3 linked regions of the Homo sapiens genome follow. The protein of the gene in region 3 interacts with the protein of the main gene of each other region in a pairwise test. Each region holds a gene or a part of one and is shown on either strand. Other genes may lie near its edges.

The links.
Region 1: the proteins of FAM83A (region 3) and GPSM1 interact in binary tests that used the Homo sapiens proteins (3 or more experiments, as listed by UniProt).
Region 2: the proteins of FAM83A (region 3) and PLAGL2 interact in binary tests that used the Homo sapiens proteins (3 or more experiments, as listed by UniProt).

The regions. Positions count from the first base shown.
Region 1 is NC_000009.12:136,325,472-136,329,217, reverse strand, and holds the start of GPSM1 (G-protein-signaling modulator 1), read right to left. Parts: upstream 1,680-3,746; 5' UTR 1,523-1,679; coding exon 1,455-1,522; intron 1-1,454. UniProt on the Homo sapiens protein: Guanine nucleotide dissociation inhibitor (GDI) which functions as a receptor-independent activator of heterotrimeric G-protein signaling.
Region 2 is NC_000020.11:32,194,041-32,197,786, reverse strand, and holds part of PLAGL2 (zinc finger protein PLAGL2), read left to right. Parts: intron 1-104; coding exon 105-1,335; 3' UTR 1,336-3,746. UniProt on the Homo sapiens protein: Shows weak transcriptional activatory activity.
Region 3 is NC_000008.11:123,192,618-123,196,363, forward strand, and holds part of FAM83A (protein FAM83A), read left to right. Parts: intron 1-1,406; coding exon 1,407-1,531; intron 1,532-3,746. UniProt on the Homo sapiens protein: Involved in mitochondrial maintenance during adipogenesis. May be acting by playing a role in the maintenance of normal mitochondrial function.

The sequences.
Region 1 (3,746 bases), on a different chromosome or scaffold from region 3:
TGGACTCCCTGCTTAGGGGGATGCAAGGCTGGGTCTGGGGTCTCTCTGAGTGGTCCCCCTGAGCACTGCCCCTGCCAGGGGCTGGCTCCTGCCTGGCGTGTCCCCAGGGGACCCCAGGCTTCTAGCTGTAGCCTGGAGAATGCCCAACTCTATGGTCAGCTGTGCAGGCCTCACCCAAGGCTAAGGTCTTGGACACCCGTCTCTCACAGCTCCACACACACACTCTCTCACAGCTCCACACACTCACACTCAAACTCACTCCAGCCAGGGCTGCTATCCATCCCCCTCACAGCACGGCCGCCCTGGAGCACATGCGGCCCTGCACAGCCGATCAGATCAGCGGAGGAAACCCTTGAAAATCCTTTAGGGCAGGCCCCTGGCAGCAGCTGCCAGCAAAATCACCCTCACGCCCCTCCCCTGCGTGGGGCCCAGGAGCCAGGCTAGGGGCTCAGCGCTCCATCCAGGACGGCACAATGGGGCTGTGTCTGGGACCAAAGCAGAGAGCAGACCGGAGGCAGCAAGGCCTCTGTCCGCCGTGCCGCCACCAGTACCTCATTTCGGGTGCCCCAGGCAGAGGCTTGCTGCTTGGCTGGGGCCAGAGAATCCTTGGGGGCCAGGCTAGGCGCCCCCCGGGATCAGCTGCTGGGACCCCTATCAGGGAGGTCACCAGGTTTTAGGGATGTCCAGAGGACAATAGTGTCCCTCGCTCTGGGGAGCCAGGCCTGCCTCTGACGGCTGCCACCCATTCGCAAGCCCCTGCCTGGACCTCACGCTCGTGTGGCTCTGCCTGAGGCCTGGTACCACCCAGCCTTGCTTGGGGCTCCAGGCACCTGCCCGGCTGGGCCCAGGGCAGCCCCTGGGGGGACATTGGGAGTCACCAGGCAGGCATGCCACCTGGGGCAGGGCCACCCTGTCATCCCCAAAGGCGTGGGGCACAGAGCCCAGTCACTGGGATCACCCAGGAATGTGCCCGGAGAGTAGATGCCTTTTCAGGCAGGTACACACCCACCTGGCTGGCTCCCTTCCAACCCAGCTGGATCCCACTGGGCTCGTGGAGGGCTGGTGAGGGGCAGAGCCCCATCCAGAGCAGCCAGGTCTCTTTGGCCATGATGCCCCTGAGTGCCCCGGGCATGGCAGGGCCAGGCTTGGGAGGGAAGCACCCCACGGTGCCCCTGCCAGGTGCCAGGGGAGTGAGGCTGGAGAAGCTGCCCACCCCGCCTCCAGCCCCCCGGCCCCCCACCCCCTTCCCCTTGGCTTGGGGGAAAGAGGGCTTCAGGGGACGCCCACGCGGGCACACGCCGGGCTGGGCTCGGCCTGGAGGGAGGGGCGCGTCCTCAGCCACGCTGCGCGCCCGCGAGAGCTGCCTTTGTTCCCAACTGCAGCCTCCCCCGCGTCCCGACCCGGCCCGGTCCGGTCCCAGCCCCGGCCCCGGCCCCGGCCCCGGCCCGTCCTACCTGGAGTAGAGGCGCCTGGCGGCCGGGCCCGGGAGCTCGTCGGCCGCGGGCGGGGCCGGGCCCGCCATGGGTCGGGGACGCGGGAGCGGGAGCCGGGAGCGCCCCCCGCGCCGTGGCCGTCCGCCCCCTGCCCGCCCTGCTGTCCTCCCTGCTGTCCGCCCTGCTGTCCGCCTGTCCGTCCGCGCCTCGTTCGCCCGTCCTCCCCCGGGGAGGCGCCGAGGAAGTGATGTGCGCGGGGCGCCGCCGCCCCTCCCGCCGCCGTGGCCGTGATGTCACCGCCGCCCGCGCGGGGAGGGGGCGCGGACCGGGCGGCCACCGCCGCGTGCCTCCCTCTGCGGGGGGCGGGGCGGACGCGGGGGGAGGGGCGCCGTGAGGCGGGCAGTCCCCGGGGAGGGGGGAGGGGGGAGGGGGTGTGGGCCCCAGCCCACCCCACCCCAGGGAATGCAGGGGAGAGGGCCTGGGCCTGGCCTTGCTGCTGGTCCCCTGGGGACTTCTGAGGGCCCGCGGGGGTCCCTGGGTCACAGTGCAGCCACACTGGCCTCTGGGCTCCTTTCATCCACAGGCCGCCTGGTGAGCCCCGCAGCCTCACCCACGTGGGGAGGGGCTGCTGAGGCCTCCTTGCCTTTCTTGGTGGGCGCCCTACGCCTCGGGGGTCCTACCCTCCTCTTCTGTGCAGCCCCAACGTGGCTTTGCCCCCTTCTCCAAACTTCTGCCTTGGGCCATGGGGCGCAGGCCGTGGGGATGCTGTCTGCCTGCTTTAGAGAAACCTGGGGCACCGATGACAAATACAGGCTCTGCTTGGCCTGTGGGACGGTTGGTAAGCCCCCCACCTCTGAGACCCTGGGTGGCCACATTCCCCTCCCAAGCTCCCCCGGAATGGGGATGCAGCCTGCCCCTTCCTTCCTCCTGGGCACTGTGCAGGCTTAGGGAGGATGCAGGTGGCACAGTAGGCTGTGCCCACCCGGGGTCCCGGGACCCCAGCCCCTACCGCCTCCTCCTCCTCCTCTGAATTCTTGGAGCCCTGTGGGCCTATGTGGTGTGACGTGGCTTCCCCTCCACCCACCCTCAGCTCCCGATGGCTTGGGGGGTTCTCCGCAGCCAGCGAGGCCCACAGCCGGCCTCCCCGGGTTCTGTCCTGCCCCCGACAGCATCCTGGGCCTTCCGGTGGTGTCAGGAGACTCCAGGCCCTTGAAAGGCAGCTGCGACCCCGGGTATGACTCGGAGAAGTCCAGGAGCAGGAAATGGGCTGCATTCCTTCGGGGCCCCTCCGTGCACCCCAGCCCCTCCCTGGGAGAGCTGCCCTGAGGTCAGGAAAGTGCCGTCCTGGCAAGACCCTCAGCAGCTGCCGCCCACAGGACAGTCAGCGTTTTCAAGCATGGGAAGGAAAATAAACACGAGGTTAAAAAGGGGTCTGTTGGCCCCGGGCTGGTTTGTTTTTCCTGTGTAAGGGAGGCAACGGGAATGAGAACCATCTGTGCCCTGAGCGCAGCGCAAGCTGCCTGCTGGGCCCACGTGCCCTCCCCCAAAGACCACAGAAGCCAGGCAGAGCCTTGCTCCCTTCCAGCCGGGGCCGTGGCTGCTGGCCGGCAGGGACAGTGGTGTTGGCTGGGGCACCACCCTCCTTTGCCACAGCCCTGGGCCTGGCTGCGGGCAGAGAACAGGCCTTCGATTGAAGCTCCAACCTTCCGGGCCACCTCCTTTGGGCTTCGGGCACCTGAGCCAGCATCCCATTGTAAGGGCAGGGGCTGCTGGGGGCCCTGCCTGTGCCAGGCCTCAGCTCAGCCCTCTTTCCCCAGGCGCTGCTGCCATCAGGAGGCCCACAGAGGGTCCACACCAACACTGTGAGCCCCTTGTGGGTCCCCTGGGTTAGTGGTGGGAGGCTGGTGAAGAGAAGTGGGGACAAAAGACATTGCACAAATGGTGGAGGGAGGGAGAGATTTGCAGCCTCGTAGCTGTCATTGCTGGGGGAGCTTCTCCTGGTCTCCTTCCTTGATGCAGAGAGCTGGGAGCTTGTGTCCCTGGGCCGGGAGAGCCCCAACATTATATCAGAACTTGTGGGGAAACCTGCACCCCCGAGGGCTCTGGCTTTGTTAGGCCGAGCTGGGCTATGAGGCTGTGTGACCTGGCACAAGTTGCTTTCCCTCTCTGAGCCTCGGTTCTGTCACCTGAGGGCTGCCCGTCCCGCAAGGTGTGGAGGGTCACTGAGGCGTGGGGTTTCTGCGGTGCTTGTCCATGTGCCTGGCACACAGTGGGGTTTGTGCAGTGCTTGTCCATGTGCCTAGTGGCTCACAG
Region 2 (3,746 bases), on a different chromosome or scaffold from region 3:
TTTTATATCTAGTTTCCTGTTAATGGACACCTTTGGTTGTCCAGTCATCCCTTGTGATCTCCCCTCTTTCTGCTTTCTCCCCTATCCCCTGTCTCTACCCCCAGGCACATGGCCACCCACTCAGCCCAGAAACCCCACCAGTGTATGTACTGTGATAAGATGTTTCACCGCAAGGACCATCTGCGGAACCATCTGCAGACCCATGATCCTAACAAAGAGGCCCTCCACTGCTCTGAGTGCGGTAAGAATTACAATACGAAGCTGGGCTACCGGCGCCACCTGGCCATGCATGCTGCCAGCAGCGGTGACCTCAGCTGCAAGGTGTGCCTGCAGACCTTTGAGAGTACCCAGGCCCTGCTAGAGCACCTGAAGGCCCACTCACGCCGGGTAGCAGGCGGTGCCAAGGAGAAGAAGCACCCCTGTGACCACTGCGACCGGCGGTTCTATACTCGTAAGGATGTACGGCGGCACCTAGTGGTGCACACAGGCCGTAAGGACTTCCTGTGCCAGTACTGTGCCCAGCGGTTTGGCCGTAAGGACCACCTGACGCGTCATGTCAAGAAGAGCCACTCGCAGGAGCTGCTCAAGATCAAGACAGAGCCCGTGGACATGTTAGGCCTACTCAGCTGCAGCTCCACAGTCAGTGTGAAGGAAGAGCTGAGCCCTGTGCTGTGCATGGCCTCTCGGGACGTAATGGGGACCAAGGCCTTCCCTGGCATGTTGCCCATGGGCATGTATGGTGCCCACATCCCTACCATGCCCAGCACGGGCGTGCCACACTCCCTGGTGCACAACACGCTGCCCATGGGTATGAGCTACCCTCTGGAATCCTCACCTATCTCTTCCCCAGCTCAGCTCCCTCCAAAATACCAGCTTGGATCTACCTCATACTTGCCCGACAAATTGCCCAAAGTGGAGGTGGATAGTTTTCTGGCGGAGCTTCCTGGAAGCCTGTCTCTCTCATCCGCTGAACCCCAGCCCGCCTCACCTCAGCCGGCGGCAGCTGCGGCCCTCCTAGATGAAGCACTGCTTGCCAAGAGCCCCGCCAACCTCTCTGAGGCCCTCTGCGCTGCTAATGTGGACTTCTCCCACCTACTGGGCTTTCTTCCACTCAACCTGCCCCCGTGTAACCCACCTGGGGCCACAGGAGGCCTGGTCATGGGCTACTCCCAGGCTGAGGCACAGCCCCTGCTTACCACTTTGCAAGCTCAGCCTCAAGATTCCCCAGGAGCTGGGGGACCACTGAACTTTGGGCCTCTGCACTCCTTGCCTCCTGTCTTCACGTCTGGCCTGAGTAGCACCACCCTGCCTCGTTTCCATCAAGCATTCCAGTAGCCCCCACAGAGGCCCTCAGCTCAGTTTTTGGCTCTGTTATGGAGCCTTAGTACCCACCCCGTCTGTGTCCCCCATGAAGGCAGCTGAGCTTTCAGAGCTGGGTTCAAAAAAAAAAATTCCAGTGTCTGTATACAGGAGCACTTGGTTTGGGGGTTCAGGCTCTAGGATCGATTCCAGAAGGAGCCTTGAGCCCCAACCCCGTGAAAAGATCTCATACCGTAGGACTTCAGGTATTATTTACTTTTATTTTTTTGACCTGAATCGGGAGCCACACTTGGCCCTCTTCCTCTCCAAAGCGCCAGAACCTCCTTCTCTTTGGAGAATGGGGAGGCCTCTTGGAGACACAGAGGGTTTCACCTTGGATGACCTCTAGAGAAATTGCCCAAGAAGCCCACCTTCTGGTCCCAACCTGCAGACCCCACAGCAGTCAGTTGGTCAGGCCCTGCTGTAGAAGGTCACTTGGCTCCATTGCCTGCTTCCAACCAATGGGCAGGAGAGAAGGCCTTTATTTCTCGCCCACCCATTCCTCCTGTACCAGCACCTCCGTTTTCAGTCAGTGTTGTCCAGCAACGGTACCGTTTACACAGTCACCTCAGACACACCATTTCACCTCCCTTGCCAAGCTGTTAGCCTTAGAGTGATTGCAGTGAACACTGTTTACACACCGTGAATCCATTCCCATCAGTCCATTCCAGTTGGCACCAGCCTGAACCATTTGGTACCTGGTGTTAACTGGAGTCCTGTTTACAAGGTGGAGTCGGGGCTTGCTGACTTCTCTTCATTTGAGGTCACATTTTTCCCCCGTGGGGAAATAAACTGACTTTGGACTGCTTCAGTCTCTGCCATCTTCCATGACTGCATTTGTTCCTGCCTGCCTCGGCGGTATCCACAGAAGACAGGCAAGAGGATTGGAGCAGTTTTCTCACAGGTCTGCAATTCTGTTTTTCTCCAAGTACATTATGACCCCCTCATCCTTCTCTTGAACTGGAGAGGGGAAGAAATGAAAGGCATGCCCACGTCCGTCACCTCCCCATCCCCTAGTCCCCACCTTGAACATCATGAGCTGTTGTTATTAGTCTTGGAAGCAGAGTCTGGGTTGGTGTGGATAGCAAAGGAGGAAGTCTGAGCCCCTCATTGGTCTTCCTCCCACCTGTCCCTTTTCCGGGAAGTTGTGGAATTGTTGGAAGAAGAGTTTGCAGAAGGTTAGGAATGGGTAGATAGCTAAGTCCTAATCTATGGGTACATTGTTGTGTCCCAAACCAAAATTTTCCTTATCCACAATGTCCCTTCTGTCTCTTCCACTTTACAGTGGACTCGGCCACTGTGCATAGGCTTCTCTGCTCTCCATCAAATCACTTCCACTTTCCTGTGCCCCCACCCCCGCCTCCAGTTTTCCGCTAGTATCCGGCAAGGTTTCTTGCAACAAATGATTAGTTCTTTTCTTCTGACTCGTGGGGCTCCCTGCTGCAGAGAGCACAGCCCTTGCCTGGAGCCCAGGAACCCCATCCTTGCTTCATCTCAGTTCTTCATGGGCTTCACTCTTCCCACTCACGGAAGGGAGGTAGCTCAGGGACCTCCACTGTGGGACCCTTGAGACGCTTCCACTCTGATTCAGAAACACACTTCTACCTCTTTACTGTTAACTCTTAACAGATGCAGTCAGCAGTTTCTGGGCACTTCTCTCAGTAGGTGCCTCATGCTGACTTCTCCAGTAGGGTTTCAGGACAAACTACCAAGGAATTGCCTCAGCCTCCTACCAGTCCTCCCTCACCCACCTTCTGTCTAGGTTCACTTGGTTTGTCATCAGGAACTGAGCAGGTCCAGGACTCAGCTTTCTGCTTCAGCCTAAGCCAGTACTCCTTGTTTGAGGTAAAAGCCTTAAAATTTAGCTCCCTAGCTCTTGATTAGAAGCAATTTGGAGTAAGTGTGTTTTGATTTAGGCAGGGTAGCTTGGGATACCTTTTTAAAAACACCAGATATTAAAATGTCTGGCAAGGTTAGAATCAGACTAGATGATTTGCTTCTAAAAATTAGTTTCAGTGAGTCCCAGGGACTAATTAAGGTTTATTTTAAAAAGTGTCTACCTTGGTACGCAGCCACCTCCTGCATGCTGTGCATGTTATTGGGACTTGTATTATAGGTGATGGTATGTGAGAATCCAGTTGGGACTCGCTGTTGCCATCCTCTTTGTTGTATCTGGTTTTCATCACTAGACTCAGCAACCCTTCTCACCTTAACTGCCACCTTCCCTACACTCTCAGTTTACAGAGGCCACTGGGCCTCTGGCTGCAGAATACAAAGTCCCGGGCTGTTAGAGGAGTCCTTTCCTCTCTGCCTGCCCTTTCCTGTCCCTCCCTCGAATTCTCTCTCCCCGTAAGTGATGCTGGAAAAGTCATAGGACTGGCAAAGCA
Region 3 (3,746 bases):
GGTGGCCCTCAGAGTTCTTTTGATCAGTCTCCTCTAGTTCAGGCAAGAGAGGTTCTGTCCTCTGGGAGAACCTCCCAGATAAGAATGAAGCCTCCTCCCTCCCTCCCTTCCCCTCTGCACAGATGCAGCTGAGTTCAGTGCTGCCTCCTGCTGCCACAGGCCTTGGGACCTCTGGCTGCTGGTCTGTTTGGCATGACGTAGATCATACCTCCTTGGCACGAGGCCATTGAAACAGGTCAGAAGTGTCAGAACTGGCCTTGCTTTCATGGCCTATGCTGGCCACACCTGACAGTACTCTGCTCACCATAGGACAATGGTGTCCCTCCTCTCAAGATCTCACAGAGCTATGGAGAAGCCCAGGGGAAGCGGCTGGAGGCAGGACTGCCCTTCCCAGGACCTGCCAAGCCACCAGCAGTCTTTTGAGGAATCCAGACAGTATTCCACCTCCCTCAGCCTTAACCCTGAGACTCCCACACTTTACCCACTCTTCCATTTCTCCAGCCTTCCAGCTGTACGGCGGGAGCAGCAGGTGCTACAGGGAAGACAAGGGATAAATAGAGCCATGGTAGGGTTGCAGACTCACCTTTGCTTAAGACAATACAGGGTCTATTGCTACCTCCACAAAACCACCTCCTCTGGCTGCACCGAGCCTTCCCTCTGAACAGCTTAGGGTCAGGGACTCAGGTCAAGCCACTTACAAGGCAGGGCTGGGCTTGCCTCCAAGTAACTGCCAGGCCACCTGTGGCTCATGGGGGCCTAGACTCGGGGCTCCATAGGCATTAGGCCCTTGCTTTTCTTTTATTTGCTGCCTTATTTGAATTCTACCACCTTCCTTTTTTTTTGTTGCCAGCTGATGCCAGGACAGTGAAGACAATTTAGACAATTCAGCCCAGGGAAAATATTAATATGGTCCAGAATCCCACCAACCAGAGATAACACATTTCCATCTTGATGAACATTCTACCAGACATTTTCATGCACAAATTGTCTTAGTCCATCACAGCTGCTATAACAGAAGTCCATAGACTGGTGGTTCATAACAACAGAAATTTATTCCTCATGGTTCTAGAGGCTGGGAACTCCAAGATCAACGTTCTGGCAGATTCGGCGTCTGGTGAAGCCCACTTCCTGGCTTATAAATGGCTGTCTTCTTGCTGTGTCCTCACATGGCAGAAGGAGTGAGGCAGATCTCTAGGCCTCCTTTATAAGGCACTCCTCCCATTCATGAGCACTCCATCTTCATGACCTAATCTCCTCCCAAAGGCCCCACCTTCTAGTACCGTCACCCTGGGGATTAGGTTTCAACACAGAATGGGGGTAAAGGGAACATAAACATCCAGCCTAAAGCCCAAATGTATCTCTATAAACAGAATTAGGAAGTGACACCTTGACTTTCCCTCCAACAGAACATTTCCATCCGGAGTGTGGAAGGAGAGATATACTGTGCCAAGTCAGGCAGGAAATTCGCTGGCCAAATCCGGGAGAAGTTCATCATCTCGGACTGGAGATTTGTCCTGTCTGGATCTTACAGGTGAGCCTTGGATTCATCTCCTGTCAAGGATTCATGGAGAACAAGGGCTGAGTGAGGTGCAGACCAGCTCCCGCTGCTCAGACACAAACACCCCCAGCAGCTCCCAGAAGGTCTCCCTCTGCCCGGAGCTGGAGCTGCATCACATAGATGGGGTGAGAGGCAAGAAATGTGGACCCTTTCTGGCAAGAATTCCAGGTAGAGAGGCATTTCCAGGTGCCTCCGTTTCCCTTGATATTGCAATAGGACGTAGAATCCTCTTCTTTTCCCTCCTCGGATATCTTAGACGTGATTATAAAGTGATGCAATTTGTTTAGTTGTGTGTGTGCACATCCCATTGCTTTTTTTTTTTTTTTGAGATGGAGTCTCGCCCTGTCACCCAGGCTGGAGTGCAGTGGTGCAATCACAGCTCATTGCAACCTCCGCCTCCAGGATTCAAGAGATTCTCCTCCCTCAGCCCCCCAAGTAGCTGGGATTGCAGGCACCCGCCACCACGCCCAGCGAATTTTTGTATATTTAGTAGAGACGGGGTTTCATCATGTTGGCCAGGCTGGTCTCAAACTCCTGACCTCAGGTGATCCACCCATGTGGCCTCCCAAAGTGCTGAGATTAGAGGCGTGAGCCACTGCACCCAGCCCCGTTTTATTTTTTAAATTTTTATTATTTGCTCAAGCAACCCACCAGCCTCAGCCTCCCAAAGTGTTGGGATTACAGGCATGAGCCCCTGCGCCCAGCCTCAATTTGTGTTTAGACCCTCACACATAGACTCCTACATCCAAATGACTGACCACCCATTTATTCTAACAATGCTACCTTGCCTGAGTCTGCCTTTGAAACTTGACTTCAGAGCTTAAAAGATATTCTTTGAAATGTTCTCAGTGGCGGCGCTAGGGAAGTGGATTTGATGGTGGATTTTGTGAGAGGGATGAAATGAGAGAGCAATTGAGGAAGGGAGGAACAGCCGAAGGTCATTTGGGAACATTTGTTTAGGAAGGTGATGAGTGTGACAGAGAGTGCAGAGGAGGGCAACTGGTTACATCTTTTCTTGCTTCCTCTGCTGCAAACACATAGTAGTGACCAGTGAAATATGAGCACAAACATTGGGATAAGCTGGGAGTGGAAGGCAGGTTTCCAGGGGGTGTTAAGGATGCAGTCTTTCCCCAGGGAGCAGGAGCCCGCAATGCTGTTCCAAAGCTAGGTGAAGCCAACTGGCAAATCTCTAGCCAGAGACAAATGAGCATAAAGGGAAAGAGAGAAGGGAGGGCGGAAAAACCCCTACATTTAAAATGTGCTATCTTTCTTTAGCCTTATTAGTGCCGTTTAGCTGAAATTCCACTTTTAATGATATTAACATTGCTACCTCCAGTCTTCCTTGGGCTTAAATTTGTACAGTGTCTTAGTCCATTTGGGCTGCTATAATAAAATCCCATAGACTGGGTAGCTTATAAACAATGGAAACCCATTACTCACAGTCCTGAAGGCTGGGAAGTCCTAGGTCAAGGTGTGGGCAGATTCAGTGCCTGGGGAAGGCCCACCTTCTGTCTCATAGACTGCTGCCTTTTCACTGTGTGACACAGTGAAAGTGTATCTTTATCCCTTCATGGTAAAAAAAAAAGGTGAGGGAGCTCACTGGGGCCTCTTCTGCAAGGGCACTAACCCCATTCCTGAAGGTTCTACCTTCATGACCTAATTATGCCCCAAAGGCCCTACACACTAATAGCATCACATTGGGGATTAGGATTTCAAATATGAATCTGGAACAGAAACAGACATTCAGTCTACAGCACAGAGTATAACTTTCTCTCCATCCCATTATTTTCAAACTTGCTGATAGATTTTAAGTGTGTCTTTTGTGAACAACATATCATTAATTTTTGTTTTTTTGAGACGGAGTCTCGCTCTGTCACCCAGGCTGGAGTGCAGTGGTGCAATCCCAGTTCACTGCAACCTCTGCCTCCCAGGTTCAAGTGATTCTCCTGCCTCAGCCTCCCTTGTAGCTGGGATTACAGGCACCCGCCACCACGCTCGGCTAATTTTTGCATTTTTAGTAAAGATGGGGTTTTGCCATGATGGCCATACTGGTCTCGAACTACTGACCTCAGATGATCCACCCACCTCAGCCCCCCAAAGTGCAGGGATTACAGGCATGAGCCACCGCTCCCAGCCTCATTAAAGTTTTTAAAAGTATAGTTTTATCATCTCTGTCTTTTAATAGGTC